5 separate regions of the Homo sapiens genome follow, and regions 1, 2, 3 and 4 are each linked to region 5. The links come from fine-mapping of genetic effects on gene expression. A gene starts in region 5. Each other region holds a variant in brackets. All regions are shown on one strand. Distances are from middle to middle. Region 1 overlaps PPP2R2D (protein phosphatase 2 regulatory subunit Bdelta). Region 2 overlaps LOC105378565 (a long non-coding RNA gene). Region 3 overlaps JAKMIP3 (Janus kinase and microtubule interacting protein 3). Region 4 overlaps BNIP3 (BCL2 interacting protein 3). Region 5 holds the start of JAKMIP3 (Janus kinase and microtubule interacting protein 3).

Evidence for each region. PIP is the estimated chance that this variant, and not a neighbour inherited with it, causes the effect.
Region 1: its variant is fine-mapped to the expression of JAKMIP3 in whole blood (TOPMed, PIP above 0.99).
Region 2: its variant is fine-mapped to the expression of JAKMIP3 in spinal cord (GTEx, PIP 0.95).
Region 3: its variant is fine-mapped to the expression of JAKMIP3 in whole blood (TOPMed, PIP above 0.99). The same link has a PIP of 0.9 or more in gastroesophageal junction, prefrontal cortex, skeletal muscle and sun-exposed skin.
Region 4: its variant is fine-mapped to the expression of JAKMIP3 in blood mononuclear cells (TOPMed, PIP 0.91).

Annotation. Positions count from the first base shown.
Region 1 is chr10:131,941,886-131,947,978 of GRCh38, forward strand. PPP2R2D (protein phosphatase 2 regulatory subunit Bdelta) reads left to right here. Exons shown (of 9, transcript NM_018461.5): 6 at 2,083-2,260; 7 at 3,410-3,574; 8 at 5,645-5,906. Among named protein-coding and RNA genes, the nearest start is that of BNIP3, 37 kb to the right of the region's middle. RefSeq lists an enhancer at 3,070-3,899. The variant G/A (reference allele first, on the strand shown) is at 2,969.
Region 2 is chr10:131,855,172-131,861,264 of GRCh38, forward strand. LOC105378565 (a long non-coding RNA gene) reads right to left here. Exons shown (of 2, transcript XR_946487.4): 2 at 5,491-6,093. Among named protein-coding and RNA genes, the nearest start is that of PPP2R2D, 43 kb to the right of the region's middle. The variant G/A (reference allele first, on the strand shown) is at 3,846.
Region 3 is chr10:132,138,356-132,144,448 of GRCh38, forward strand. JAKMIP3 (Janus kinase and microtubule interacting protein 3) reads left to right here. Exons shown (of 24, transcript NM_001323087.2): 10 at 2,096-2,224; 11 at 3,565-3,693. Among named protein-coding and RNA genes, the nearest start is that of JAKMIP3-AS1, 45 kb to the right of the region's middle. RefSeq lists enhancers at 3,293-4,140, 4,141-4,987. The variant G/C (reference allele first, on the strand shown) is at 2,252.
Region 4 is chr10:131,962,341-131,968,433 of GRCh38, forward strand. It overlaps BNIP3 (BCL2 interacting protein 3), which reads right to left. Exons shown (of 6, transcript NM_004052.4): 6 at 5,344-6,093. It also overlaps a transcript of PPP2R2D not described here. Among named protein-coding and RNA genes, the nearest start is that of BNIP3, 17 kb to the right of the region's middle. The variant A/C (reference allele first, on the strand shown) is at 2,808.
Region 5 is chr10:132,063,233-132,069,325 of GRCh38, forward strand. It overlaps JAKMIP3 (Janus kinase and microtubule interacting protein 3), which reads left to right and starts at 2,714. Exons shown (of 24, transcript NM_001323087.2): 1 at 2,714-2,829. RefSeq lists enhancers at 1,491-2,238, 4,513-5,013.

The sequences.
Region 1 (6,093 bases), 120 kb before region 5:
GTGGCATTTGCTGAAAATCTAGTTTATAGGGTCCTAATTTGAACCAAGATGTTTTGATCCAAAATGTTGGTGATGTCTGATACACAGTGCTGCCGCCTTTGCACCCCTGAATTAGTGTAAATCACTTTTAGTGACAGTAACACGAGTTGTGCAGTTCCATCATCATGAAACTGCTGATCCTAAAGTAGAAGTGTGATGGGACCCCCGAGGGTGGGCACTTGACCCCCTCCAGCCTTGTCCATCTCTTCTGCAGCCAACACCACCTCCCACCCAGTTACCTGTGCACACCCCACCCTCAGAAACCCCTGTTCCTCCTGATCAGACCCTGCCACAACCCATCAGCTCACGTGCTCATTTTGGGAGAACAGTAGGCCTTTACTAGGCCCAGTCTTGGTTTTATTCAAGGCTGCTTTTGTAGGTTTAGCCTAAATAAAACGGGTATAATTGGTGGCCCTACTGAAGGTGTGTGAGAAGTCTAGTTATTTCATTAGTTGGTGCATGGGGAAGAGACCACAGACAGGTAATTCTGTACATTGACTTAGGTCGGTATTTGAGATCTTACCTCTCTAACAGTTCAGAGTGGGCTATTTATGTATCTGAGCCTAACTGGGTAAGAGTCAGACATGTTGCTGTTTTTAAATTTTTGCTCTTAAATTATTTTAGTGCCAGAAAAGGGATATAATTAAAAGAAGAAATCTTGGCCAGGTATGGTGGCTCATACCTGTAATCCCAGCACTTTGGGAGACCGAGATGGGAGGATCACTTGAGCCCAGGAGTTCAAAGACCAGCCTGGGCAACATAGCCAGACCCCATCTCTAAAAATGAAAGCAAATTATTTTATATGCAAATTAAAATGTTTTCAATAAAAGAAGGAATCTTTGTAAGTATTGCAGCTATCATATGTTTTGATTAATGGGAAATTTGTTAGAGGATTGGGGTAGGTGTGTGTTTTTAAGCCTGAACTTGGTAGAACTGACTCTTCTTGCTCTAGAGAATCCAAGGGTGTGGTCAGCACTACCTGGGTTAAAATGAGGGAAGCCTCCCTACACACACTTTTCCAAGTTGGTTTTTTACAGAATTCAGCCAGACAAGACTCAGTTGAGAGCTTTTCTTTTTCCCCTAAGCTTTCAAGGCTCTCCCTTTTGGTTTCTAATTACAAGAATAACAAAAAATACTATCATTAATTTTTTGTTTTGATTTTAAAGCTTATGTTTTTCTTCCAGCTGGATGTTAGTGAGACACAGGCCTTTTTCCTTTTTTCATGTGTGATGCTATTCCTCACGCCTGAGCTCTCACCTCTGACCATAGGCGGCCTGCAGCCAGCGCCCACTCCTCTCTGTCCTTTCTATTTCTGTGCGAATTGGGCTTCCCTAGGAAGCCTCCCTGACCACAGCACTCAACACAGAGATGGGGGCGGGAGGTACCTTCTACTTTTTGTTTTAACCTCAAGTGAAGTGTAATATATAATACATACCTCCAGATAAGACATCTGCCCTATAAGTGACCAGCTCCATGAATGTTTGTAGGGTGCACATGCCCATGTAGCCAGCCCCAGACCAAGAAATGGAATATCCTCAGCTCCCCAGCACCCTGCTGTGCACCCTGCCAGTACCTGGAGCCAGTGGAGGTTTGTGGGGTTTGCACCGAGAAGCATAGTCCTAGTGCAGTGAGAAGAGGTGTGTGCATCTAGCTGCAAGGAGAGGACAAAGGGAGGGGTGCAGCTGAGCCACCCAGGAGGACTTTGCTGTCCAGCGCCTCAGTGTGGCCACTGGAGGACACACAGGAGAGGGAGCCGCAGGCCTCGGTGCCTGGGCAGTTTGTTACCCTGCCAGCTGATCTTCTCTTCAGCAGGAACATGTCGACCTCGGTAATGGAAGCAAGGGGAAGACTTGGAATAGACAGTATTCCATTTTGTAGCATATTTTCATAACTCTGCTAATTGGTTATTTGGGGGTATTGCCTGTACAGAATTATTACTTAGCCATGAATATAAACTTGTCCTCTTTCGTTATCTACTATAAGTGTTCTAATTATGTGCTGCTGTGATCTTTGTTTTGAATTCCTATTTCCTTCCATTTTTAGGTCCCAATATTGAAGCCCATGGATCTTATGGTAGAAGCGAGTCCACGGCGAATTTTTGCAAATGCTCACACATATCATATAAATTCCATTTCAGTAAATAGTGATCATGAAACATATCTTTCTGCAGATGACCTGAGAATTAATTTATGGCACTTAGAAATCACAGATAGAAGCTTTAGTATCCTTCCTCAGAGGGACACTGGCGTCTTCCCGAGGGTGCTCTTTAGATAGTAATTTCTCTCGTCCCTTTATACACCTGTATCTCGGAGTCTAGTCTTGTAAATACCATCACTGCACAGCAGCCTGTGATGTAAGTTCTCTGTGATTTGAAATGTTTGTCCCTAAAAATACAAATTTCTTTCTACCTTTGGGAAAAAGTTATCTGTATAATGGGAATTACCTGAAGTCCACTGCCTGCCTGGTTTAATCAGAGGCAGTTTTAAATAGGCTACATTTGAAAAACCAACATTATGTGTTCTTTTTTTTTTTCTAAATTTGCTAATGAATAATAGAAAATACTGGCTTAGGTTAGAGCAGTGTTTAATCACCCATCTGAGCAGCAGCTTCCAGTTAGAACCTGTGTTCTTCTGTGGCTGTGCACAGTCTGGGTGGCCCCAGCCCTCCTCACATGGGCCCCTTTCCAGCCAGCAGCCGGGAGCATGGGGCTTGCTTCGTCTGCAGCCTCTCCAGGGTCCCTGCCGTCCTCCCTCTGCTGTCCAGTGGCTTGAGCTGGGGTTCCATGTCGTATGTTGGTTTTCTTAGTTGTTTCAGCTTGAAGGGTGAAACTGGGACTGCTAGTCTGAATTGGCCCACAGCTGAATTCTGCCCTTTCTTATTTTTTTCAGTTGAAGGATTTCTGTATAGGATTTCTGTTGGATCTGTTCTA[G/A]CTACACAGAATAAGCTCTTCATGTCAGGAAGAGCAGCATCTTTTGGAATTTGGCGGCATTCTTGTGTTGTAGTTTTGTGTGGGAGTGTGGGATTTTGCACAGATGGTACTAGCTTGGTTTTCCTATTTATATGATTAAGTATGTACTATCTTGCTATTAAGGGCTTTCTGTATAACATTAATAATAGCAGCAAGATGAAAGCGGTGTTCGCTTGTCTGTGTCTCCCCCTGGGCCGGGGCGTTGCTGTAGTCTGAGTGTGCTCATCCCAATCCCCTTACCAGGCGCTCCTTTGGAATTCGGGATGTGTAACCAGCCTTCTTAATAGCTAATCCCTTAAACCTCACTGCGTGGATTATTTGGCGTCCTATTTCGCGTGACTGAATGTAGACTAATTAACAACCAGCTGAGCTGAGCACTGTGCCTTAACCATGCACTCCCAGACATCGTGGACATCAAGCCTGCTAACATGGAGGAGCTGACCGAAGTCATCACTGCAGCCGAGTTCCACCCGCACCAGTGCAACGTGTTCGTCTACAGCAGTAGCAAAGGGACCATCCGCCTGTGTGACATGCGCTCCTCGGCCCTGTGCGACAGACACTCCAAGTGTAAGTGCGTCTGTTGTTGAGATGGAGTCTGGCTCTGTCACCCAGGCTGCGGTGCAGTGACACAGTCTCGGCTCACGGCAAGCTCCGCCTCCCGGGTTCCAGCAAGTCTTCTGCCTCGGCCTCCCGAGTAGCTGGGACCACAGGCAGGTGCCACCATGCCCAGCTAGTTTTTGTATTTTTAGTACAGACAGGGTTTCACCATGTTGACCAGACTGGTCTGACCTCAGGTGATCCCCCTACCTCGGCCTCCCAAAGTGCTGGGATTACAGGTGTGAGTCACCGCACCTGGTCACGCCTGGCGTCTTTTAAAGCATCTCATTTAGAGCCACTTGTTCTTCAGACACTCCAAAGACTTAGAGAGTTCTTCCTGTTCCCCAAGTGCCTTTGCACAACTGGGGAGCCCTCCTTTGCTGGGGCCGTCCGAGTGTGGCTGTGTCAGAGGCTGCTGCTAATAAGTGGAACTCGAGGTCATGCTTCCCACAGGCTTATGGCTGTAGGGTGAGTGTGCTTTTGGCACCACCGAGAAGCGGGGTCACTTCTGCCCAGAGCCTGGGTGTCTCCTCAGAGGCTGCCAGCACTGAGTCCCGCCAAGAGCCACCCGTTGCCTCTGCCTCTGTGCGTGAGACCTGGGCTGAGGCCGCCAGCACACAGGAGGCCATTCCCAGCTGTTGGAATGAGCTCCTGTTCATGTTGAGCTTGGCTGGATTGGAAGCCACTTCCCTTAGCTGAAAGTCTAGCATTTTAATCCAGTGAGCTTTCAAGCTCCTTTTAGGTGAGGGAGGTTCTGGTTTTGTTTTTATTTTTAGCCATAAAGAATGGGCTTGACTTTATAGAGCACTGTAGTCAGCGTGTCCCAGTGTCCTGAAACATTGCTGACCCTTCCTCCAGTGCCAGCAGGTAGACACACGTCCAGTGACTTCCTCTGATGGGGAAGCCGCCAGTCAATCCCACCAGACTGAGCCGCTGCTCATGTGCAGCGGCGCCCCCAGTGCCTCGGTGGAATGTGCCCATGGACCGTGTGCAGCAGCCTTTTCGCCTGTTCTCTTTCCTGAGGTTGAGTGTGTTTTTAAGAATTCGTATTTCTACTAGAATTCCTGCGATGAGGATGAGTGTTTCGTAGCATTTGGCCTGTATCTTAAGCATAAAATTCTTGAGTAAATAATTTCAGATTCCAGTTCTATTTGTCATCAGAGTGATTTATTTGAGTAAATGCTTGGCGTCGGCACAGCTGGCTTCAAGTTAATTTCAGATGCTAAGCCGACAAACACAGGCTCCTGCATCAAGAAAAAAGAGAAAAAACCTAAAGCAGCTTCAGGTCAAGGAAGCACAAGCCAGGTGCAGTGGTGCTCACCTGTGGTCCCAGCTACCCTGGAGGTTGAGGCGGGAGGATCTTTCTGAAAATAGGAATCCAGTTTTGTCACAGTAGAGCTTGTGTATATTCAGTATTGGAGACAAACCTTGGCTGGCTGGCTTTGACCGGCGGGACCGTCTTGGTGGTTAAAATCAGGACCACAGCGTTGCCAGTCAAGGTGGTCACTCCTGCAGACCCACAAACTGTCGACCCTCCAAAAAGCAGGCAGTTTCTTAGAGGCACAGACCGCTGTGTCTGCATGACCATATAATGCTGTTTGTGTCTTCCTGTGATGTGTATGCGATAGAATTTCACGTGCTCGGGCCTGGTGCCATGAGGACGCGGAGACACTCCTACAGGAATGCGGTGGTGCTGAACCTGGGCACACATCAGGATGCCCCGAGGAGCTCCCACAGATGGCAGTGCCCAGGACCTTGCCTAGAGATTCTCATTCAGGGTCCGGGTGAGACTTGGGCGTCTACGCTTCTCATGCCCATCCCTTGTCCATAGCTGGTGCTAGAATGTCTTATCCGAAGCTCTTGCCCACGGAAGTCACAGAAGATCAGAAAACCTAGAGAATCAGAAAGATCAGAAGACCTAGTGTTGAGGCCAAGCCCTTCCAGAGTCTCTCTGAAGGGGCCACTTCCTACTTGAACTTGAAAATGATTTGTTCTCTGATTTTTAAACAGAAGCTGAAAACATTTTATTTTGTTTTTCAGTTTTTGAAGAGCCTGAAGATCCCAGCAGTAGGTCCTTCTTCTCAGAAATAATTTCATCCATATCCGATGTAAAATTCAGTCATAGTGGGCGGTACATGATGACCAGAGACTACCTGTCGGTGAAGGTGTGGGACCTCAACATGGAGAGCAGGCCGGTGGAGACCCACCAGGTCCACGAGTACCTGCGCAGCAAGCTCTGCTCTCTCTATGAGAACGACTGCATCTTTGACAAGTTTGAGTGTTGCTGGAACGGTTCGGATAGGTAAGGCCTGCGTGGAGATGAGCTGTCGCCCCAAGCTTGCTGGTTTCCGAGAGTGCAAGGTCAGTGAGGGAGGCGAGCTGTCCTCCAGCGTCAGAGGAGGACGCTCATAGGGTGTTGTTTTCCAGACCTTTTGATTGATGGATGATAGTATCAAGGTAGAGAAAATAGGATCTCTGAGCAAGTTTCT
Region 2 (6,093 bases), 210 kb before region 5:
GAGCTGGAAGCCTCTGAGCTGTGCCCACTCCAGGGAGGTGGCCGAGGGACAGTCTTCAGTGTCCCCAAGGAGCTGAGCTGCCTGTAAGTCACTGTAGGAGGCTACTACCCTGTGTGTGCCACACACACACAAGACGGCCACCAAAATCCTTCATGTTCTGAGGCTGAAAAGGACAAGCAGGCCATGTGGCAGGCATGTGGACCCCAGCACCCAGGGGTGCATTTGCCATCCACCACTGGGAAACACGCCATCTCCAACTTCAAAGCTAGAATAGTATTTATCCCTTCACTGGTTCTGAGGGTGGGAAGTGTCCAAGCACCGTGCTCCCAGTGCCGAGGGCTGAGGTCAAGGTGTGGGCCGGGCAGAGTTCTCCTGTGCTGGCCTCAGGGTGCTGGCAGAGTCCACTGCCGTGTGGCTGCAAGACTGGGGTCACTGCTTGCTTGCTGGCTGTCAGCCAGGCCCACACCCAGGTCAGCGTGTCTCCTCTATCTTCAGAGTCACCCAGCCCAGCCCCAGAGGAATCCTCCCGGGCCAGATCCCTCCCATTTTGAACCCCAGCTGCCCAGAATTTCAAGGCCCCATTAAGGACTCACCTGACCAGCTCAGGGCCCAGCACATGCCCCCATTGAAGGTTCACTGAGCAAGGGCCCTCATTACACCTGCAGAATCCCTCCCCAGCAGCCTCTGGACTGTGGTGATTGGATGACAGGGGGAAGGTGTGTGCCCTGCAAGGACGGGCACCTGGGGGCCAGTTTAAAAGTCTGCCTTCCCAGGGCTATGGGGAAGACGAGCGGAGGCCCATTCAGGGCTGACACAGCATTTCTGGGACAGCCAGCACCTCCGGACGCTGGCCTTGGCAGAGCCCATGCCCTGGACCAGGCCCATCCATGGCCCGCCTGTCCCCAGGGAGTGGCTCCTCCCTCCAGGACCCCGAGGCCTGTCCTGTCAGTGCCCATCCCTGCACAGAGACCAAAGCACCCTTCATGCTGAAAGCCCATTCCCACAGCCACGCCTCCCAGAAGCACAGAAGCTGCAGCGGCAGGAGCCAGCGGTGCCCCTGGTGCTCTGGGGCAGAAGCCAACAGCGAACAGCACAGGTGGGTGGAATCGGTGGTGGGGTAGAGCCCAGGAGGGTGAGGCTGGACCCCCTGGAAATGCAGGTGCGGGCATCTCCACCGGGGAAATCAAGAGCTGTGACCGGCTGTGCCCACCCTGGCGGAGCGTGTGACTGGCAGTGTCTTTGGGCACATCTTTGGGTGTCTGTAACCCCAGAGGGACACTCTGAATGTCACCGACCCCCAACATTCCTGCCCTGGAAAGTCAGGAGCGGGCGAGGTGTCGCCCTCACAGGCTGGAGCAGGAGGGCCCATGGTCACAGCTGTGCCCAGGTCGGGGTGGTGCCTCCTGAGGAGGGAAAGGAGCAAAGGCTTCCCGGGAGTGTGAGGAACAGCCTCCAGAACCCCAGGGACTTTCCAGGCAGGGAGCAGGTGCGAAGGCCCTGGGGCCCTACAACGTGCAGGCTACAGAAGGCTGGGCAGCCAGCCTGGGGGAGGAGGGAGCAGAGAGGGGAGGGAAATCAATCAGAGGAGCGGGGTGGGCGGGGGAGGCTGGGCAGGGCCCTGTGGGCCTTCAAAGCTTTGGCTTTAGGCCGAGTCTGAGATGGGAGCCTCAGGAGGGTGTTGAGCCCCGGAGTGACCTGAACTCTGCCCCGCGGGCAGCTGCGTGGAGATGGCCTGGGTGGGGGCCCATGCTGCGTATTGTTCAGTTAATGACCCTTAAACCACACTCACAGCCCCAATACTGGTGGGGTAGGCAGAGCACAGCTATGGTGGCCCCAGAGTAAGCTCCATGGCAGAAGAATCCAGAAGGAAAAGCTCAGATTCCCAGAGGCAAGCAGGCGGAAGACACTCCAGAGACGCCTCAGAACTTAGAGAGGCCAGTGGAGATTGGCCAGTAGAGGTCTGTGAGCCAGAAACCCGTCAGGGCAGGCGTGAGCTCAGATCAATGCCTCGGGCAGCCACAGGGAGAGAGAAGCCAGCAGAACACGTGGAGATGGGCAGCAGGAGTGCAGCGGCCCCAGGTGCGGCCAGGCCCAGCCAGGGAGACAGTGGATCTCACCTGGCCTTGGGCGCCGGGCACAGCCCTGGTGTTTTGTTTGGTGGTGCCGATGCGCGTTTCCTGTGGCACTGGAACTAACCGCCACGTACTTTGGTGGCTCACAGCAGCACAGGCATCTTTCTTCACACCCCAGGGGTCCGTACGGAGTGAAACAGGGCTCTCTGGGCTAAAGTCCAGGTGCTGGCAGGGCTGGTTCCTTCTAGAGGATCCAGGGGAGAATCCCTTCTCTCGCCCCTTCCAGCTTCTAGAAGGAAGCTGCCTCCGTCCTCAGAGCCAGCAGCATCCAGCCCAGCCCTCACATTGCCCTCCCTGGCTCTGAGCCCCTCGGCTTCTCCACGCTCCTCCCCGTCGGGTAAGGTCAGCTGATGAGCATATTGAGCCCCTCACGGCACCCCCCATGGCCCCCCATAGCCTAGCATATCTATAGGTCCTGTAGTGGGACAGCAGCATCCTTGGGGACATGATTCTGCCAACTCCAGTGGTACTCTCCAGTCTGGTGTGGAGGAAGAGATGGAGGAGAAGCCTGGGTGCACGCCTGGGGCAGGATATGGACCCAGCATGGCCAGAAGAAGCAAGTCAAACTGAGGCCGTGGACCTGCAGGGCACATGAGTCGGGGGTGCTGAGGGGTGAAGCCATGGCCTTTTCTGAGAAGTCCATGCAGATGCGTAAACCGGAGACTCATCCGGGGCGGCCCTGGGCACCCCCATCCCGAACAGGTCTCTTAGTATAGTTCATTGTCAGCGTGCAGTGGTTCAGAGCCTGCCTCTGACTGAGGCGGCTGCCCAGGGCCACAGGGCAAGGGGCGGGGGGGCGGGGACAGGACCCTGAGTCCTCATGAGGCCATGCTGAGTTGGTTGGCAGCACCCAGGGGAGTGACTGTGGAGGTCCCATCCCCATCTGGTCCTCAGGCAGGGGCAGCACAGCCTTCAGCCACAGCCCACTCCAAAGCCAGCACCACGATCTCTAAAGCCTGGGACAGGAGGCCAGCCTCAGCCGCCACCGTGCCACCCGAGAACAGGAGCGAGGACCAACGTTCCCGGCTCTCATTCACACCCAGACAAAGGATGCTGGTGTTGACGGATGGAGCCACGGAGTGGGAGGAAGCTGTCTCAACAGATTTGGCCCTGCTGCAAACCCATCAGGAGGCTCTAAGCCGGTTTCAGGATGAGACAATACTGCGCCCCATTTCCTCCCCAAGGGCCTGGAGTGACTTCAGAGAATCAAATGCATGGTGAGTGGGTGGAGTAGGGGGAACAGGGACCTTCCTGATAGCTGTTCAAGTCCAAGGAATGCTGAGCAGGAGAGATGTGGGGCAAATTTTTAGAGAGAATGTTTCTGAAGCGTGTGGTCATGATGCCGCAACCCCTGAGTGACGGCGGGAGGCGTGATGGGTCTTAGATCCATACAGGTTCGACGGCCCCTCGGCAGTGCGGCCCCTCAGCAGTGGGGCCAAAGCGCCATTGCCGGCAGCCGGTCGGGAGGAGGGTGAAAGAGAAATCCTGGCTGCACACAGAAGGCACCAACTGTTTGCTCATCGCAGAGCAGGGCAGTGGTGCCCAGGAGGGCGGGGCATCGGATACTGAAACACGAGCAGGTTTCCGGCATCGAGACTGGGGCTGGAGACTTCAGGAAACCTCATTTTCTTCCCCAAACATCCACCCTTTTCTTTAAAGTAGGCCAAAGGCCTCCGTTTCACGCTGTGTGAGCCAGGCGTGTCAAGCCACAGC[G/A]GTCGAGGCGGGTGTTTCTCAGGGCAGGCTTTAAAGGTGCTCGGGCCCTTCGGCCGGCGCCCTCTGCAGGCAGGGCAAAGGGTGGGGCCATGGGGTCCCTGCAAAGATCAGGCTAAGGCGACTCCACCGCACTGGAAGGGAAACTGAAGCCCTCCCAGGGTCACCTGCTGGACGGCAGCAGAGAACGTGGGAGACCCACATGGCCAGGAGGAGGGTGGCAACACCAAAAACGTAGTTTTGAGGGAGGACATGAAGCAGCAGTCAGCTGTGCAGAGTTTCTTCCTCAGAGTCTTGGGGATGAATCAGGACCGGCCAGTGGGGACAGCTGAGTATGTCTCAGGTCATCCACAGGGATGCTGTCCAGGCTGGTCCAGAATTGGCTCAGCCTCTCATCTCGCTAAAAATCCTCCAGTGGGGAGGGCACCAGGGGCTTGGGATGGAATCTTCCCATCAGAACAGCTTTCAGCCTAGGTGGTTGACGGAGTCTGGGGAGAGGTATGCAGGTAGCGATGCCCACTCAGCCTCACAAGTCACAGCAACGAGGCACTGCAATGAGTCACTGCAACGAGTCACTGCAAACTCCATCCCTTTTTTAGGACTTCAGCTCCTCATGAAATGGCTCAAGAACCAGAATTTTAGAGACATTTTTTTCCCAGTGTGACTGTCTTGGAAAGCAGTTTCATGAACAAGCCTTTTTCTGGGCCCAGGACCCTCCCAGTGACCTGGTGGACAGAACCAGTTCTCTTTGGCCACCAGGCTGTCTCCTAAAGTAACTAGAGCCTGGGGACCTTGATACAGTCGCCTCGTTCCACAGCAGTCTGATAGCCAGTCACACCTGCACGACTCCCATGGAGCTGACAAATTGCTTTGGTCTGGGGATCCCCAGCCACTGAATACTGGCCATCTTTACCTGCATAGGAACCTGGTCCCTAGACACCCAGTCACCTTTGCTGGGCTTGACTTGCAGCCTCCACACCACAGCTACGTCCTGACTGCTGGGAGCAGGAGCCTGTTTTGTTCTCTTCACCAGCCATTTGTGTCTCCTGTTCCGTGGGATGCCTTTCCATATTCTCTGCTTTACTATTGATGTCTTTTTATCATGGTGTCAGAACGCTTTAATATAAGAGATATTCACTTTTTGTTTAAAATTTTTGTTTAAATGTTGCAAAATGTACCAGAAGCAAATAATCGAAGGGGGAAATTTTGCACCTCATAAGACAAAGTCTGATTCCCTTTATGGCTTTTAGATATCCCGTCTTATGGGAGAAGCTCTCTCCCATCCCAAGGGTATAGAATGCTATCTTTAGGTATCTTTTAATATTTTCACACTTTACATCCAACTCTTCATTCTCGATGGGGTTTATTTTTATGCATGGTGCGATACAGGATTCTGGATCTTTCCTTCATCGCCCATCATGCCAGCACCTTCTGTTATACAAGCCCCCAGTTCCCGCTGAGCTGCCTGAAATTCCCCTGGAACTTGGACCCACTCCAGGCAGCTCTTCTTGCATGTTCCTGGGGCCAAAACCATGCCGTCAGGATTCCATCGGCTCTGTTGGGATCTAAGTATCTGATAAGGTGTGATTCCTGGCTCACTGTTCTTTAGAAAACATTCTCAACTATTTTCAGACACTATTCCTCGATGTGAATTTAAATACTTCTTTTTATTTCAAAAAAGAAAATGGAAAACATCTCTTTAGAAATTCTATTTAGGTGGCATCCCGTTCACACATCCATAGGGGAAGGACTGAGGTTTTCATGACACTACCTCGTTCACCTGTGACCTCCCTGCATTTCTGCAGGTGTTGCTCTGTGTACACGCACCATCTGCAAATGCTTCTCCTCCACACAGACAAGCCTGCCGGTCTCAGCCTCCTTTCTTGAAGCTGCACCTGCTCAACTTTCCGCTCAGGTCTCACATCAAGGATTTTGCTCTCCTGCACATTCACGGAGCCTTCCTTTGGGGGCGCCATTGCTTACGGCCCCTGGGATGGCTCACTTTATGTGTCAATTCGCCAAGGCCACAGTACCCAGACATTTGGCCAAAGATTGTTCTAGCTGTTTCTGTGAAAGTACTTTCTAGGTGAGATTAACACTTAGATCAGTAGAGTTGGAGTAAAGCAGGTTACCGTTTGGGACGTGGTGGATCTCAGCCAATCAGCTGAAGGCCTTCATAGAAAAAAGGCTGAGGTGCCTTGGAGAAGAGGGAGCTCTGCCAGAGGGTGGCCCTCGGCCTCGAGCTGCAACA
Region 3 (6,093 bases), 75 kb after region 5:
GTGTGGAGAGGACCGCGCCCGCGTGTGTGGAGAGTACGCCGGGTGTGTGCGGAGAGGGGTGCGCCGGTGTATGTGGAGGGCGCTGGGTGTGTGTGCCGAGGACCGCGCCCGCGTGTGTGGAGAGCGCTGGTGTGTGTGGAGAGCGTGCTGGCGTGTGCTTAGTAGGAATCAGTCTTTGGAGATGAAAAAACAATTTTATTATTTCTAAAAATTGTTACTGTGAAATGACCAAAATAGGACCCAAAGAAAATATTCTGTTTATCATTTTTAATAAACTTGTTTCTTTCAAATTTCCAAGAGAAGATAGGAATTGGTAACAACCATACCAGCAACACTAGCAATGAAGAGGTGCCGGCTCTGGTGTCCTCACTGCCTGTGTAGGGTCCGAGTCCCCACGACCTGTGGGATGCACGGCTCTGAGGACGGGCGGCTGAGGCTGCTCACACTCACCCATCCTGGCTGTGCCACACACCCCACGCTCGCCTGTCCTGCCGTTCACCGTCCTCGGCCACACTTGCAGGCTGTGGCAGCCTCATCCACAGGCCCCACAGGGCAGACCCACGTCCCCAGGAAATGTGAACACCTGTCATCATTTCTCTACAGTAGAATCCTTTGTGATAAACCTATGATTTTTATTAAGGGAGGCTTTGGAGCAGCTGCCAAAGGACCTAACTCATCTCCTGCTTTATGTTGAGTGTGTGTGTGTGTGTGTGTATGTGTATGTGTGTGTGAGTGCGTGTATGTGTGTACATGTGTGTGTATGCATCTGTGTGTGTGTGCATGTGTATGTGAGTATGAGTGTGTATGTACATGTGTGTATGTGTCTGTGTATGTGTGTGTATGAGTGTGTGTGTGTATGTGTGTACATGTGAGTGTATATGCATCTGTGTGTGTATGTGTGTGTGTGTATGTGTGTACATGTGAGTGTATATGCATCTGTGTATGTGTGTGAGTGTGTATGTGTATGTGTGTGTGTTTGTATGTGTGTACATGTGAGTGTATATGCGTCTGTACGTGTGTGAGTATGTGAGTGTATGAGTATGTGAGTGTGTATGTGTGAGTGTGTGTGTGTGTTTGTGTGTACATGTGAGTGTATATGTGTCTGCATGTGTGTATGTGTGAGTGTGTGTGAGAGTATGTGAGTGTGTATGTGTGAGTGTGAGTGTGTGTGTGGCTTGTAAGCTGTCAGCAGTGTTTTCTCGCTGTTAGACTGTGAGATGCTCCTCGGTCACAAACACTTGCCCTCTGAAAGGTGGAGAGGAGGAGCTGTCCAGGCTCTCCCCGCTCGGGACCCCTCTGGGATTTGGAAGTGTCCAGCAGACGCCTTGGCCCTGTGAAGGGAGGACACAGGGTGTGGGGAGGCACACAGGACAGGGGCCAGTGGTTGGCGGGGAGTAGGGGAAGTCGGGTGGCCCTGGGGTCCCTGAGGGAGTTTTGCTGGAAGGTTCTGGCAGAAGAACTGGGAGGAGACCTGGAGGCCACTGTGGCCACGGCAGAAGGGACTGAAGAAGATGGCGGGCTTTCCATTTTGTAACACTTCTGAAGGGGACCCAGATGAGTCCCTCTTCGATTCTTGAAGGCAGGGGTGAGGGGGCCCTAAAGATGCAGACGTCGGGGTGAACCTGGAGGGTCCCCAAAGGCAGGGCCTCTCACACCAGCTGGCGGAGGACCCCGTTTTTGTTTGTATTCCAATCAGTCAAGGACTGAAACTTTAAAAAATGGAACAGAAATGCATCACTGGGAATGAGATCACACAGGGAAGGCACCCATCGTCGGTTCTGTTAACCCGGGTACCACCCTCAGGGAACCGCAGGGACGGTGCCCCACGAAGGGCCTCATTCCCCACCACCAAGGGCAGGGCCAGGACCCGCTCACCCACGGGACTCCAGGCCCCTTCCCCACCCGCCCTGCCAGCCTTGCCATAGAGCGCCCCTCACACCCAGGCCACCTCCTCGGCCTGTGCCAGGGACAGAGATGGGAGTGTGTCGCAGGGTGGGGCTGCGGCCCCCACCGTTGGGCAGCGGGAGGAGGCGGCGGGAGGAGGCGGCTGTGCCTGGGTCTGGTTTGAACTGACACGTCGCATTTTGGTCACAAGCCGGTGGTTGTGGAGACCTTCTTTGGATACGACGAAGAGGCTTCCCTGGAATCCGACGGCTCCTCCGTCTCTTACCAAACAGACAGGACGGACCAGACCCCGTGCACCCCGGACGATGACTTGGAGGAGGTAACGAGGGTCTCCTGCCGGGTCCTG[G/C]GCTTGGAGGAGGTAACGAGGGTCTCCTGCCGGGTCCTGGGCTTGGAGGAGGTAACGAGGGTCTCCTGCCGGGTCCTGGGCTTGGCTGGGCATGGGCTGCCGGCTTTTCACGGGGAAGCCCTTCGCGGCCCTCACTGGCACTGACCCGCTGATAGCTGACTCGGGCACGGTGAGAAGCTCCCATGACATGGCTTGGGGTGTGGGCTGAGGCCCGCTCTTGCTCCCATGAAGGCCAAACCATGCCTCCTTCTGCCACTGAGCCTACGCCCCTTCTGCATAGGGGTACGGTGAGCTCTCCCTTCCTAAGGGGCCTCCCCAGGAGGGTCTGAACCACTCATCAGGGAGTTTGGTCTCAGTGCCAAGAGCACATTAGGGTGAGGGGTGTTGAGCAGGAGTTTTCTTTCTGATAACAGCACAGGTGTGTCTGCCCACCAGCCCCTTCTTCCAGAAGGACGGCTACCCTCAGGCGCAGGCAGCCATTTCAGCACCAGGTCGGGGCTTGGTGTTGTGGGACCCAGACCCTGTGGCTGTGGGACAAGGAGTGGGGTCTGCAGTCAATGGCACAGCCAAGGATTGGGCCTCCCGTGGCAGACCCTGGAGGGTGGCCCAATGGCCATAGACCTGTTGAGGGATCTAAGACATCCTCTCACAGCCTCAGGTGCAGGGTTGGGCAGGGGAACTGGGCCAGGCCAAGGCTTCTGGGCTCAGTCACTCCTAGACGTGGCCAACCCTTCCAGCCCCGGGGGTCCACCGGGACCCTTTGAAGGCAGCAGCAGGCTCACCTGTCTTCTCCCTGGGGTGACGGGGGGCACTGCAGCTAGCAGGGTGAGCCTGCAAGAGTGCACCTGGGAGGAGACGTGCTGCCTGGGGTACTTTACCCCCTTCACAAAGCCCAGCTTTCTTCCCAGGACGTGTTTCAGCAGAGCAGAGCGTGTGCAGGCCTGGTTGGTAACAGAGGGTCTGCTGGGTCAGGGCAGCCTGGCTAGCAAGCAGGAGCCCCAGCTGAGCCCCTGGCCATGGCCACCAGCCCAGCAGGCTCACCCTGTCCTCAGCCGTGCAGCCGACTCAGCTCCCACCCCAGGGCTCGGTGCTCCCCTCCCCAGGGAAACCTTTCTCCAAACAGCACTGAGTCCCCAGGCAGCCGCCCCTCCCTGCACACTGGAGCAGGTCCCCTCCCTCATGCTGCTAGAGAGACCCCCCCATACACCATTTGATATCTGGGGAGAAGGGAAGCCCCGGGGCCCCGCCATCGGAGGAGGTGCTGGCTACTGACACTGTGTCTCTGTGCGTGTGTGGCATCCGTGTCTCTCCAGGGCATGGCCAAGGAGGAGACGGAGCTGAGGTTCCGGCAGCTGACCATGGAGTACCAGGCCCTGCAGCGTGCCTACGCTTTGTTGCAGGAGCAGGTTGGAGGGACGCTGGACGCAGAGCGAGAAGTTAAGGTCTACGTGACTTCCACCGCGCGTTCCGGCCCCCCTCGTGCCTTCCCGCTTGACCCCGTGGCCTGGGCTGGGACACCCCCCTCACTAGCCCTCCTGGGCCCGGGCCCCTCCTCTCCTGCCCTTGCCTGCAGTCCTGGTGGTGCCCATGGAAGCCGATCAAAACCAGGGATTGGGGATCCCGGTGCTGGGAGTTGGCCCAGGTGGGAGGGACTGGCCCAGAGCGGTGCCAGGCACAGGTGTGAGTAAGGGTCCTGGGGGAGGCGGGGTGGTAGTGGTGGCAGGGGCCCACAGCGCCCAGGGTGGGCCTCCTTCCAGACCACCTCTTCCACTCTTGGCAGCATGGCGATGGCCCGTGGCAGCATCGAGCTCGGTGTTGAAACTTGTGGAGGTCATTCATCCTCAAAGGCTGAGCTCACACAGGCTGTGCCTGCCCCGGCCCCGGCCCCGGCCCCTCTCCCCCGGCCTCCCCACTGGGCAGCACCCCAGCAGCCGTGTCCCTCCGCCCACTTCCCTGGCTCACCTTAGCGTCGTCCCCCAGGAAAGGCCTCAGTGTGGCTGGCGGGTGCCCTCTGCGGGCCGTGGAGGGCAGTGCAGGCACCAGGCCTCGTGGGGAGAGCGTGGGCCATGGGTCGGGGGTCCTCTTGCCGCCCCACCCTCCCTTACTGAGGCTCGGAGGGGAAGCCGCTGGAGGACCTGCACCTGGTACCCCTCACAGCGAGACGGGCTGCTTTCCGGGGGAGCTGAGGGGTTCTCCAGAGCAGGCAGCTGTGGGGTGTGGGGTTCCCGTTGGCCTCCCCACCCCAAAACCACCCTGCAGGGCCAGAGATGCCAGTGTCTGGCAATTCTGCAACTTAGGGTGGCTGAGCTGGGTGGGGGACGGACCTCTTGGGGCGAGGGGAGAGTGTCCACAGAGCATCCCCAGCGTGGTCCACGCTAGTGCCCCAGGGAGCCGCCAGCCTCATCCTCTGTCCACCCAGACCGCCCTGGTGACGTGGCTGGTTTCCCTCCTGCCTTCCTGGCACCTCATTGGGGACGTCTGTTGTGAAAACTAAGAGAGAGCTCCACCCCTCTGTGCCCTCCTCCTGTCCTGAGTCGGGGTGGGGGGGGCTGGCCTTGGAGGGGGCGTCCCCTCCTCAGGCTCGGAGAGATTTGTCTCCGTAACTGGGGACTTTAAATATCGCCTCTTTCACTTTGACTTAATTTTTGCATGACCCTTGGAGAAAGGAAAAAGTCAAGGCCTCGGTTCAGAGCATCATAAAGCACAGCAGCCCCGAGACATCCCAGAGCCTCATGGGCCCAGCCTTTCTCCCTCACAGCGGGGGCGGGGCAACAGCCGCATCCTCCTGGCCAAGCTCGCCAGGAGCTGGAGGAGCTGGAGAAAGCATCCTGTCTTCCCTTTTTCCTGTCGGGTGCCAGAGAAACATTTGCTCGGGGGCCACATGGAAGCAAAGAACTCAGAAGCTTTGCTTAGAGAGTAAAAATGTCCAAACTGCATGTAAAAAAAAGTTTAATGTCATTTAGAATCAGAGGAAAATCTGATGCCGAGAAGTGCTGCATGGTTATTTTAAAAACTAGAAGATACAGAAAAGATTAATGAAGAAAATAGACTAGCCGGCATCCCACAGTCTGATTCTGTATTATAATTGGAAATGTCACTCCTCACTGTGGAAATCGAGGAAGCCTCAGGATAAGGAAGGGGGCAGGAGAGGACAGGCGTCTGAAGACATGGACGTGGGCCCATCCCTGCCACGGTCCTGAGGCTGCAGGGGGCCCACAGCCCTCTGTGGGCTCCGTTTCCCTGTCCGGAAACAGGGTTAGGACTAACTGGAATTCCCTCTCTGCTAAGCATTCTCCAACCCAAGGGCTCACATCCACGATTGTGACCCCTTAAGGGAGGGAAGAGGCTGGGGTGATGGGAGGAGCCCAGGACGGCCTGGGGGCAGGGAGCTGGGACCAAGCACTCGGGGGCGGGCACCACAGGTCACGCCTTCGCCCACCCCCCACCCCGGCTGATGGATCCTCTGACCCTGCGTCCTGTCCCGAAACGCACCTCTCCCTTGGAAGCTATCCCCAGAGAGAGCAGGAGCCACTGTGGCCCCATGGTTCGGAGCCACCACAGCAAAGTGAATTAAGGGAGGTGGCTCAGACCTCGGCTAGAAGCCTCGGTGGCACTCGGGAGGGACTTCACAAACCAGGATGCGGACGGGGGAAGCGCCAGGGCTTTTCCTGTAGATGTGGGGCGGGCTCTGGGAGTCAGTTAAGGAACACAGAATTCAGGAAGGCAGTGAGCCCTGGGCTGAGGCAGCTCCCGCACAGGCAGCCACACCACCCGGGGCTTCCAGAGGGGCAGCTCCAGTACAGGCAGCGGCACCACCCGGGGCTTCCAGCGGGTCCATGTGG
Region 4 (6,093 bases), 100 kb before region 5:
CACCTTCACTCACTCACCAGATGCAGATTGCAAAGAGGCGAAACCTGTGATTTCTTTAATAATCACAGTCTCCATCTGGTGAGTGGTTAAAGTCACGTTCCGTTTTCATTTTCCTTTTGGTGGCTGGGAAATGCTTCTGATAGTAATAGTTTTCGATTCTGCAACTCCCATTGTCTTAGGCTCTGTAGCTCTCCATTTTCTTCTTATCCTTGGGACGTGTCTTGGACGTTTCTAACAGGCTGTGTTCCTGGACCTGAAACTCAGCTGGAGACTGGGTCCCTTGCAGATTTGCAGGGACCGTCCATCGCTGGTGTGTAGATGCAAAAACAAAACACTGGCACCACCCAGTCAGAACTGGCAGGGGCTGCCTGCACTGGGCACCAACCCCGCAGATGGCCAGGCCCAGACCACGTGACTGCCTGCTGGGCTCCACCCCCAACCGCAGCCCAGCCAAGGCAGAGAGGTGGCTGCACTTCCGCCGATCAGAGGTCCAGATAGAGCTCCGTCTGCTTGCCTTGGAGTTGTTAGAAAATTATCTTTGGGGCTAGGCATGGTGGCTCACGCCTGTAATCCCAGCACTTTGGGAAGCTGAGGTGGGCGGATCACGAGGTCAGGAGTTCAAGACCAGCCTGGCCATCATAGTGAAACCCCGTCTCTACTAAAAATACAAAAAATTTAGCCAGATGTGGTGGCGGACGCTTGTAATCCCGGCTACTTGGGAGGCTGAGGCAGGACAATCACTTGAACCCAGGAGGCGGAGGTTGCAGTGAGCCGAGATTGTGTCGCTGTACTCCAGCCTAGGCGACAGAGTGAGACTCCATCTCAAAAAAAGGTTGGGATGTCTTTTTAAGTGTGTCTGTTCCAGGAGGATGGGAAACACTAATTTATGATTCCAAGAACTTTCAGGGGAAATTTGTTATCCAAACCTAAATATCTGAACACAGTGTAACCCTGGTTCTTACTAGAAGTGTTTTTTCTTAAAGAAGCTGTGAACTGGTCATACGTACAGCGTTCACAAGTCCCCAGAGGAGGTGACAAAGTCTTGCCCTTGCCTCTGGCCCCCTGGATCATTTTGGATACTTGTTTCTTGGGGGGTTACTTCCAGTTTTTATACAAACACAAATAAGATTCACTCCTGTTTCCCGTTTCTACACATCGGGTAGCATCCTGTGCATGCCGTGGGGCGCCTGGCTGTCCTCACTGCGCGCGTCTGGGCGGGCTGTCCACACCGTCCGTGGAGCCTCACTGGCTGCTGCACGGTGGCATTGCCACACGTCGGACGCGGCTTCTGACGCCACAGGGCTGTGCGCTGAGGCTCTGCCTTTCTAACAAGCCCCCAGGCAGCGCGCTGACACCCCAGTCCAGGGACCACACTTTTTTTTTCTTTTTTAGTAAAAAGGTATCTTCTATTTATTTTCCTTCTTAGCGTTGTACTTTGAATAATTTTGAACAGGTTTTGGAAATCCTGCAGCCTTCACCCAGCCCCCTAACAATGGTGTGTCCTGCAGCCTCATGGGGACTCACACCGTGCAGGGCTAGTGGCCTCACCTGCACCTGCCTTGGCACCTGCCTGGCTGTCTCACGAGTGTCGGTTTTTCCTGTCCAGGGCCCTCCCAAAGCGCCCACGTTGTATTTCGTTGTCTCCCTGCCTTCCAGTCTCTGCTGCAGTCTTTCAGGACCCGAGCACTTGGGAAGTGTGGGCAGGCATTTTGTAGACTCCCCCTCAATTTTGGTTTGCCTGATATTTTCTCGTGATTAAACTGCAATTATGCATTCTGGCAAGAACACGGAAGAGATCTGGCCTCCTCTGCATCAAATCAGGATGTAGGTGGTGTCTACCAGGTCTCTTCACTGTAGAGTTACTGTTTTCTTTGGTGTAATGAGTATCTTGCGGGGACACAATGAGAATATCCTCTCAAGAACCCACTAACTTTAGTTTCCGTCGACGAATCAGCAGTTATTGGTATTTGCCTAATGGTGACTTTGTGTTTTTTTTTTGTTTTGTTTTTGAGACAAATAACCGTCACCACCACCGGGACCCAGGGCTGGCCGTGCACACAGCTGTTGGAGGATCATTGCTTCCAGGCCCTTTTGTTGAGTGGCACTTGGAAAGACACACTCCCCCATGCACAGCTCCGGCTCAAACCGCGACTCACTGCTAACCCAAACCCAGCAAGCCCACGGCTTCGTGCTAGCCTTCCTTGTGACTGTCCAGCAGTGGGAAATCAGGCTGTCATTACGTGTAACATCACACAGTGTTAATATGCCTGTGGTTTCAGGATTGCCAACCCATGGAAAGCAAATTCACTAGCAAGAGTTTACTATGTTTTTTTTTTTTTTTTTTTGTCACTTTAACCTTGCAGTATCCACCCCGAATGGTGTTCTCTGGTCCTTTAGCTCACCAGCCCACCCCTTCAGTATGGCTTTATTATTTATAACAGTGAGGTTCCCTTACTGTAGGTATTCCATTTGGGATTCCCCCCCAAAACAGTTATTCATTGAATTTGGCAGCATCTGAAGCATTAATGTGGTTCTAAGTCTGTTACACAAAAAGCTGCACTCCTTCCACCCTCTTCCGTTTTCCATCTCCACCTCTTTCCACCCCGGGGTAACCAATCTCATTTAATTCTGCCTTATTCACCCTAATTTTTTTGCACAAATGAGCAGTTATGTGTTTTTCTTAGCTTTTTTCACATAAAGTATACTATATATATATTTAAATAATCCTGTATTTTGTCCTCCCATTTGCAGTTTGGACGGGGCTCAGCAGGTTCAGTTCATCTGTGCTCCAGACTGTCAGCGAGGGC[A/C]TCTCTCCTGGCACTGGAGGATCCACAGAGGGGGCCACATGGCTGGCAGGGGTGCTAGCTGCTGGATCCTATCTGACCAGGCCTCTCTACTGAGCAATGTGGCTTCTTCCCAGCACGGAGGCTGGGCGCCAAGAGCATGCACCCGCAGAGACAGGAAGTGGCGGCTGCCGGTTTCTTAAGGCTGGGTGGGCCCAGAAAGTGGTGCTGCACCACTGGCATCACTCCCTCCTTATCCTGTTGGCCAGTCCAGAGCTGAAGGGGCACAGACCCCCATCACTCATTAAGGGCTGTCAAAAAAACTAGGGGGCTTTTATTTTTTTGAGACAGAGTCTCGCTCTGTCGCCCAGGCTGGAGTGCAGTGGCACGATTTTGGCTCACTGCAACCTCCACCTCCCGGGTTCAAGCAATTCTGCCTCAGCCTCCCAAGTAGCTGGGACTACAGGTACGCCACCACACCCAGCTAATTTTCTTGTATTTTAGTAGAGACGGGGTTTCACCATGTTGGCCAGGCTGATCGCGAACTCCTGAGCCCAGGCAATCCACCCGCCCCAGCCTCCCAAAGTGCTGGGATTACAGACGTGAGCCACAGCGCCTGGCCGGGGGCTGTCTTCAAACTGCTACAGGTTTCCTGTTTCAAGGAGCTGCTTCCAAATGTTCTTTCCTTTCTGCTAGGGAGACATCTATTTTTGCACTGTGTTTTACTTCACATACCCTGGAATCCCTTCTCATCGCGAGCTCTTCCCCTTGGTGCATGAGTGGCAAAGCACCGGCCCTGCAGGGCAGCACTGTCGTTCTCTCGAGTCTCTATGCGTGGGCACCTCGGTTGCTTCATATATTTTAATACAATCATGTTATAATAAATACTGCGTATTTAGTTATATCCTTGTGCATGTGCATGTAGAAGTTTCTAGGTCTGTCTCCAGAGTGAATTCCTAGAAGTGGTTTGTGTGTCCAAAGCATAGATGCATGGCTGGAGTTTTTTGAGGTGTTGCCGACTCCTCTCTCTTGCAGCCATGTGCATTCCTTCTAAGCAACGTGTCGGCGTCACGTTCCACACCCTAAGCAGATGTGTATGGGCAAATGTCTGCATCAGAGTAAATATCAGGTAAATAGTGGCCAAGTGGCCAATGTTTTTATATCAGAATCACTTAATGTTAATTTTATAAACTTAATGATTAAAATGAGTGTTATGGGCAGTTATTTGTATTAACCACTGTAGAAAAGAAGGGTTATTTACAGAAGCTATTCAGAAGGCACACTGCCATTATCCTACCTCAAAGATAAAAACATTCAGATACGCACACACATCAAACTTGTTTCATTTTTAATAAAATGTCTAATGTTACAATCTAACGAAAAACACCTCCAGAAAACTTGATTCTTGGTCTCCCATCTGTCTAAAGCACTCCAGTCCCAGAGTTGTTTTTTCTGAAACAGGGTCTTGCTCTTGCTCAGGCCGTGTGCACTATCCTGGCTCACTGCAGCCTTGAACTCCTGGGCTCAAGGGATCCTCCTGCCTCAGTCTACCAAGTAGCTGGGGCTACAGGTGTGTGCCACCACACGAGGCTAATTTTTGTATTTTGTGTAGAGACAGGGTCTTGCTATGCTCCCCCAGGCTGGTCTCGAACTTCTGGACTTGTGATCCTCCTACCTCAGCCTCCCAAAGTGTTGAGATTACAGGTGTGGAGCCATCACACTGGCCCAGTCCCAGAGCTTAGTACCTCCAACTGGTTGTTTTTTTTTTTTTTTTTGAGATGGAGTCTCGTTCTCCCTCCCAGGCTGGAGTGCAGTGGCATGATCTCCACTCACTGCAACCTCTGCCTTCTGGGTTCCAGCGGTTCTCCTGCCTCAGCCTCCCAAGTAGCTGGGATTACAGGCACGTGCCACTGCGCCCAGCTAATTTTTGCATTTTTATTAGAGACGGGGTTTCATCATGTTGGCCAGGCCAATCTTCTGACTTCAGGTGATCCACCCACCTCAACCTCCCAAAGTGCTGGGATTACAGGCGTGAGCCACTGTGCCCGGCCATACAGGTGGTTTCACTCAGAGTTCAGCCATTGTCATCTGTGAGGGGGACACGTGGTTGGCTTTGTTGTGTGCTAACTTTGATGGTGACCAGGGGGTTCACTGAGCTCTGTAAGGTGCTGAAACTCCACTGATGTTTGTGATGAAAGACAAACAGCAAACATATTTGCTCTAAAACAAAAACGGAATTCCCTTGACCATCGTGCTTCGATGATCTCAGACTATTCTGAAGTTAAATTATATAAAGGAATTCTGATGTCATGCCATCCACATTCTCCAAATGTAAGACTGAGAGATGACTGCTTCCAAGGTAGCATCAACAAAGATTTTTACAAATGAAAACGTTAGATTTAACACCCGAATTAAGCGTGGAAAGGTGAAACATCAAGGCGGCAGGCAGCCTTTCTAAAAAGTTTGCTGTAGGAAAGATAATGTCAAAATAGGGACCAGTCCTGGTTTCATTAAGAAGCTATCATGACGTCTGATTTTAAACCATATGTAAATACAGTAATCTGAAGGATTTGGCAAAGATTTATTTTTTTTTCCATTTCCAGTTTTTTAAAGTAGACACAGATTTGCTTAGAATAAAGCTGATTTTAAAAGCACACAAAAGTTGAACACAAAGGAGAGGATTAAATTCACCAATGCAGAGTGATAAAGAGGAAAAGATACTGAGTAGGTGCCTTCAGCAGAAAACTGATCATCCAGGGTGATCACCTAATAATCGGAGACTTAATTCCTTATAATGCAAAAGCAAGAAGAGTTTAGTGTACGAACTGTACAGCTGAGTTTGTAGCTCTATCTTGGTTTCTGTTGATTATGAACAATTAGCATAGTTATATATAATCTTTCTTTAGTAGACAACCTGCATCCATTTAAATTAAATAATACTTTCTACAATAGTGTGATATATAAGGCCACAATATTTATTTTGGACAAACCCCTTAAAGTAGCGATTTTATTATCAATGTTATTCATTCTTTTGAAATATAAAGTACTTCAGCTGAATTAAGGTTGCAGATAATTTTTAAAATACAACACACATCATGACTAGTATATTAAAATTATTTATATTCAGATATTTATATCTAATATCAAATGAAAATTTACTACCAAATTTTCACAGTAGACATTAATCAGTCTGACATGCTTATTGATCCCATAGGTGTAATTATAGATCAACATGATTTTAGTGTCTATTCTTTTATTTTACTAAATTAGGAACGCAGCATTTACAGAACAAATAAACACAAGTGACGTG
Region 5 (6,093 bases):
GAGACATAGAGACCCACTGGAGGTCGTGGTTTTCCCAGACCCTGTGACACAAGTGAGGCCTGCTGTTTAAGCCTCTTTTCCTCAGAACACGTCCTGGGGGTGCTGGCTCCATCCCAGGTGCTGGGGCTCGGTTTCTGGGATCTGGAAGAATTAGGGTGGAGCTGGCAATGTGGCTGGGAGGCTCAAAGCTCAGCTTCTTGAGGACTAGCAAGGATGGTTTTCTTATTCATCTATTCCTGTGTTTTCCAAATTCTCTACAATGAGCACATTTCACTTTTACAACTAGAAAAATGGATGCTATTTAAAGAGCAGGCTGCTCCCTAAGCTGGAACGCCGGGTGTCAGCCCGGCCCAGCACCCACCTGCTCTCCGCCTCAGCCAGCGTGGGGATTTGGAAGGGACAGTGTCTCCCTCTGGGCTCCGGGAGAGAACGGACCGTCTGCAAGGGGCACGTTTACTGCAGGAATCAAAAGCACATACACGCATGTGCATCTGTTTGGAAATGAAAGTAGATGTTTTTTCTGATTCTAAAAATATTGTTTCCAATTCTACAAAAAAAATACATACAATTCAGAAAGATACAAAACAAAATATCAAGTCACCTGAGATCCTATCACCTGGAGCTATGGCCACTTTAGAGCTTGGTATCTACGCTTTCAGGCTTTGTTTTTCTTGAGTGCAACACACACAGGCACGCGTTTTTAAAAACAAATAATGTGATCATACTATACACACTTTTTTAAACAGAAATGTGAGCATACGATACCAGCTTTTTTATGGCTGACTTTAAAAAACTTAAACAATAGGTTGTTTACGTCTTTCTGTTAAGCTTGGACTGGGGACATTTTTAAATGGCCCCATTGTATTTGGACGTATGTGCGTTTCCCATCGCTTGTTAAATCACTCCTCTGTTGGACGTCTAGGATGTTTCCAATTATTCCCTGTTATATTATGGACAACACTGCCGTAAGCATCCCTGAGTGAGTTATATTTAAAGGCTTACAACAGCGCCTGGCACGGGGTAGGTGCTATAAAGTATTTGGACTAAAGTCAAATCTGTGCACACACCATCCTTGTGTTGTTTCCCCAGGATCAATTCCAGCAGGAGGACAGCTGGGCTGAGGGGGCACTGCCCTCGTCAGGAAGGTTGTCCCCGTGGCCTGCCTCCGACTGAGGAGGAGCCACCCTCGGGGTCGGGCGTGGACCCCGAGCCGCCGGCATGGGAACCCTCTTTGCTTCAGGGCAACACGGGAGGGGTCTGGATCTCCGACCCACCGTTCCGGGTCTGAATCCAGCTCCGGGACCTGACAGGGATGTGATTGTGGGGCAGCCGCATGGCCTCTTGGCGCTCCAGCCTCCTCCCCTGTGACATAGAGGCAGCGATGGTTGGTAACCAGGGACAGCGGGCGGCTCCGTCACACGAGTCAGGACATGTGACCCTTGGAGGGTTGTTGCATCACCCTGGACGTTTGGCCAGACGTGTGGCCATGGTTTTAATCAGGACAATTTTTTGCTTGCTCTAACTTATGAGGGTGGCCAGATCTAGACAGACAGCAGAAGTAACCCGAAGTCCTGGCCTGCCCTGTGCCATCCTCTGACATGTTATCATCGGCGTTCACTCTGTGGGCTCCTCTCGGGGTGATGCCTGCCGGTCTCAGCTTTGGGGTGAAGTGACATTTGGCCTTGACTAGAAGAGGCAGGTTGTGGGGGGCAGGCAGGGTGCAGGCGAGGGAACTGAGGCAGAGCGGGCTGGGAGCAGGGGGGATGTAGGGTCCTCCCAGGCTGACCCCCAGAACCTGGGCGTGCAGGCCTGCTCTGGGGTCCAGGCTCCGATGCAGTCTCAGCGCAGGCCCTGGTGGCCGGAGACAGGGCAGGGCAGGAGCTTCAGGCCACCCGCACCGGCAGCCCTCAAGGCTGCCTTGATGGAATCGGACCCAGATGGACTCTAAGCGGCCTCCTGCTTGGAAACCCTGTCAGACCCTGCGTTTTCTACAGAGCGGCTGTCACACGGCTTTTCCGGACGGTGATTATGGACTGCGTGTGGGATTGGCGGGCCAGGTGAGCTCTCGTGCTTGCCCTTCACACAGGAATGCTGCTGGTCTCCTGTGTCTGGTTCCCGTCTGCATTTTCAGTCCTCAGTGTTGAGTGTGTGCAAATCCCTTCTATCACCTGACATTTAAAATAGATACCCTCAGAGTGGAAGTTCGTTCCTATTATTGACCCGCTCACTCTGCAATCTTGAAGGGGGTTCTCCAAGCAGGAGGGAAAGCCGGCCAGAACGCGGTCCTGGAGCAGCCAGGAAGCCGAGGGGGCGGTGAGGGCAGGGATGGCCCAGCCGTGGCCTCTGCCGCTCGCTGGTTTTCACGTGAGACTGCCGCCGGGCCAACCCGGAGCCCAGGCCGCCTCTGCATCTGAATAGAGCCAAGCTGCCTTCAGGATCTCACCTGCGTGGCTGTGCCTTCGGCCGCCCGGCCGTGCAGAGCTGCGGGCCCCTTCCCCACCGAGAAGCGTCTGTTCGCGCCCTGCAGGGAGCTGGGCTGGGGGCTCAGAGGATGCCTCTGTGCTTGGCCTTAAGGTGCACAGGGAGAGCTTGGGCGATCCTGGCTCAAGGGCTCTGCTTGGAAACAGCTCGGGGAAATGGTTCCTCCCCCTGGATGTAGTCACAGCGTGGTAAATTCCATCTGAAAAATAAAAGCCGAGCTCTTTGCTGAGTCATAGAAGCTCGGAGCTGATTTGCGCAAAAGCCGGACTGAGTCTTGGACGAGCCGGGAAAGATTCTCACAGTCGAGCAGAGCGATGGGAGAGAGGAGCAGACAGCGAGCTTTGGAATGTGAGTGTTTATTTTCTGACTGCTGCAGAGGCTTTGTTGGTTTCGGTTTGGCTGTCTCTGCACAGGCTCTTTCCACCTGGTGCTCTTCTGTATTTAGTGCGCACACGTATGTGGCTGGAAAGTTGACAGTTTGGGGTCTGTCCTCTGAGGGGTGCAGGGACGATCACAGAGGAAGATGCTTCATTTATCCGTTTTCACGTTCATGCTCATGCACACATTTGGAGGAGGCTTGGGCCTGCGTTCCCAGTAGTAGGTTTCTCCTTTAAAGCATGGGTGTGTGTTCCATCCCATATGTAAAGCGGATGCTTGTTGGCACGGCAGCCGTGGTGGGGTGGGTTGGGGAAGCCAGGCTGAGTCTGTGTATTGCCGGCTGTGGTGAGAATCCCACGGACATAGCACCAGAGAGCTGTCTGCACAGCCCGGGAGGCCTGCGGCGTCCGGGTGCTTCCTGGCTCCGTGGGGTAACCGGCTGGACTTTTTTGCTGCTTGTTTTCCTTTTGAAGAATAGGTCATCTTTATGGCTTGAGGCCTCACCACCTACCTGCGCATTGATTGGATGGTGTCTTCTCTTTAAAACTTAATCAAGAATCACACATCACTCATTGATATAACTTCTTATGCAAGGAACTCCAGGTTTTTGGGAAACAACAGCTTATTAACTTACTAATTCACTCTTTGAGGTTATTGCACCATGCCTCAGTTTCTACAGTTGTTCAAAGAAAATCCACTGCTGATTGGGACTGGCAGGGCTGCGGTGGAAAGGGTGTCACAGGTAACTTGGCAGTACGTTGTTGTACTGATGCTTATTGAGATGTCAGTGAGACTGGCCGGGAAACCATGCAGGCACCCTAGGGATGTAAATACTTGCTGCTGCCGTTGATTTTGTTGTTCACAGTGTGGGAGAACCAGTCACAAAACGGTTTTCTCATTCCAAGCCAAGCCTGGAGTAGTAGACTTGAGAGTCCTCTCAGTGGATCGGGCCTTTGAGCAGGTCCGTGGTAAAACGCCACCTCAGTTCCCGAGAAGAGCAGCAGAAGAGGAAAGTGAGCCGGGCCGAGGAAGGACCCTCAGTTTACATTCACAGCATTACCGGCAAAAGGCTGGCGTTTGGATGAGGTTCCCTAAGAGTCCCACAGAGTAGATCAATATGATCAATATGTGCTTGGAGAAGACAAGACGCCTGGCACATTCACATTCCTTCTCCAAGGCTGAGGGTGGGGGGAGGGCATTGGCATTCCTGCTATTCCCGAGGTTTCCCTGCCTCTCCTGTGAGTTGAGGGCACCCCTGTGAAACCTAAGGGCACGCTGTGGCAGAGAACATGCACGGAGCTCCTGCTTCTCTCCCGACAGCCCTGGGAAGGCCTTACTACTTTAGGTCCTAACTAACAATATCCAAACGACCAGGTGGTGGTCCCACAGCAAGGGAGCTGTCAGTCAGAGCTGTGCCTCTGCCCCCGTATTTTGGATCGAGCTCCTCCAAGAGAAGTAAGTGTCCTATACATGTTCTTGGAAGGTTGATCTTGACTGTGGACTTCCGTGTGGACTGTGGGCTTCCGTGTGTACTGTGGGCTTCCGTGTGGACTCTGGGCTTCCGTGTGGACTGGACTGTGGGCTTCCATGTGGACTGTGGGCTTCCGTGTGGACTGTGGGCTTCCGTGTGGACTCTGGGCTTCCATGTGGACTGGACTGTGGGCTTCCGTGTGGACTCTGGGCTTCCGTGTGGACTGTGGGCTTCCGTGTGGACTGTGGGCTTCCGTGTGGACTGGACTGTGGGCTTCTGTGTGGACTGTGGGCTTACGTGTGGACTGTGGGCTTCCGTGTGGACTGGACTGTGGGCTTCTGTGTGGACTCTGGGCTTCTGTGTGGACTGTGGGCTTCCGTGTGGACTCTGGGTTTCTGTGTGGTCTGGACTGTGAGCTTCCGTGTGGACTGTGGGCTTCTGTGTGGACTGGACTATGGGCTTCCGTGTGGACTGTGGGCTTCCGTGTGGACTGTGGGCTTCCGTGTGGACTGTGGGTTTCTGTGTGGACTGTGGGTTTCTGTGTGGTCTGGACTGTGGGCTTCCGTGTGGACTGGACTGTGGGTTTCTGTGTGGACTGTGGGTTTCTGCGTGGTCTGGACTGTGGGCTTCCATGTGGACTGTGGGCTTCCGTGTGCACTGTGGCTTCCGTGTGGACTGTGGGCTTCTGTAAACTGAATTCCATTCAGGACCAATGCCATATCTTTTTATTTTTCCTTGACTCCTGAGTTTCCAGACAGGCAAGCTAGGATGTGGCTGGATGGTGGTGTTAATTTTCCATTTGGACCCTGAAACGGCCCTCTTTAGTACGGGGATTGAATAAGTTCAGGACACTAGCCACTGAGATGACTCTTTTTGAAAGAGCCTATGTTGGCCTCCTAGGCTTCTTCCATGAATCTCTTGGGCAAGTGTTTCTTATCCATGAACCTCTTGGGCAGGTGTTTCTTATCTCAATATAGCCCTGTTGGTCTGGCACCCCAAGCTGGGCTTTGAGCGATGTGAGGTAGACGTGCTTTGGGAGCCGGAGACTGGAGGTGTCTCCTGTCCTGCACCTTAGCCCCAGGAGCTGCCTGGGCCTGCTTTCTTTGCAGACGTCTTATATTTATCAAACCTGTGCTGCAGGCAAGGGCCATGCTTACTTTCCTTTGGGGTCCCTCTGGAAGGCTCTCAGGAGCTGAGTTCTTGATTGCCTTGGGTTTTTGACCCCAGGACATGACATCAGGAATGTCCTGTGGTTGCCAGTTTCCAAGCAAGCACAGCTGGCAGGGGCATCATGGGAAACCCTCTCCTTGGCACAGAGAATTGGTCTCCAGAAAAACCGGGCCTCAAAGTGAAGCCGGAATTCAAACCTAGGGAAAGTGACTCCGGCCAGCTCAGGATGAAGGATGTGACTGGATCAGGAGGATTTGCAGACCTTACTGGCCTTAGTGCTCGGCCTGCGGCTGAGTTCGAGGGGAGCGCCTTTAGCTGGACTGGTCCAATGTGTTTAATTGGGTAAGGAGGAATCCTACCCAGGCGCCATTCTTCCTGGGCACGGAGCTTATTAAAACTTTCCCCAGCTGCTGCTCTTCCCAGACATCCACCTGCCTGGTGGGTGGTTGACCCAGGACTACTTTGACTTTGAAGGACCCCAGGTCTTCCTGCCTGAGGAGGACTCTGAGCACCCAGCCAGGGGTGGGAGGCCAGGGGAGGGGTCTGGAGGCCTCGGTTTTTCTTCTGAAGGGACACTGGGTCTGTGTTACACC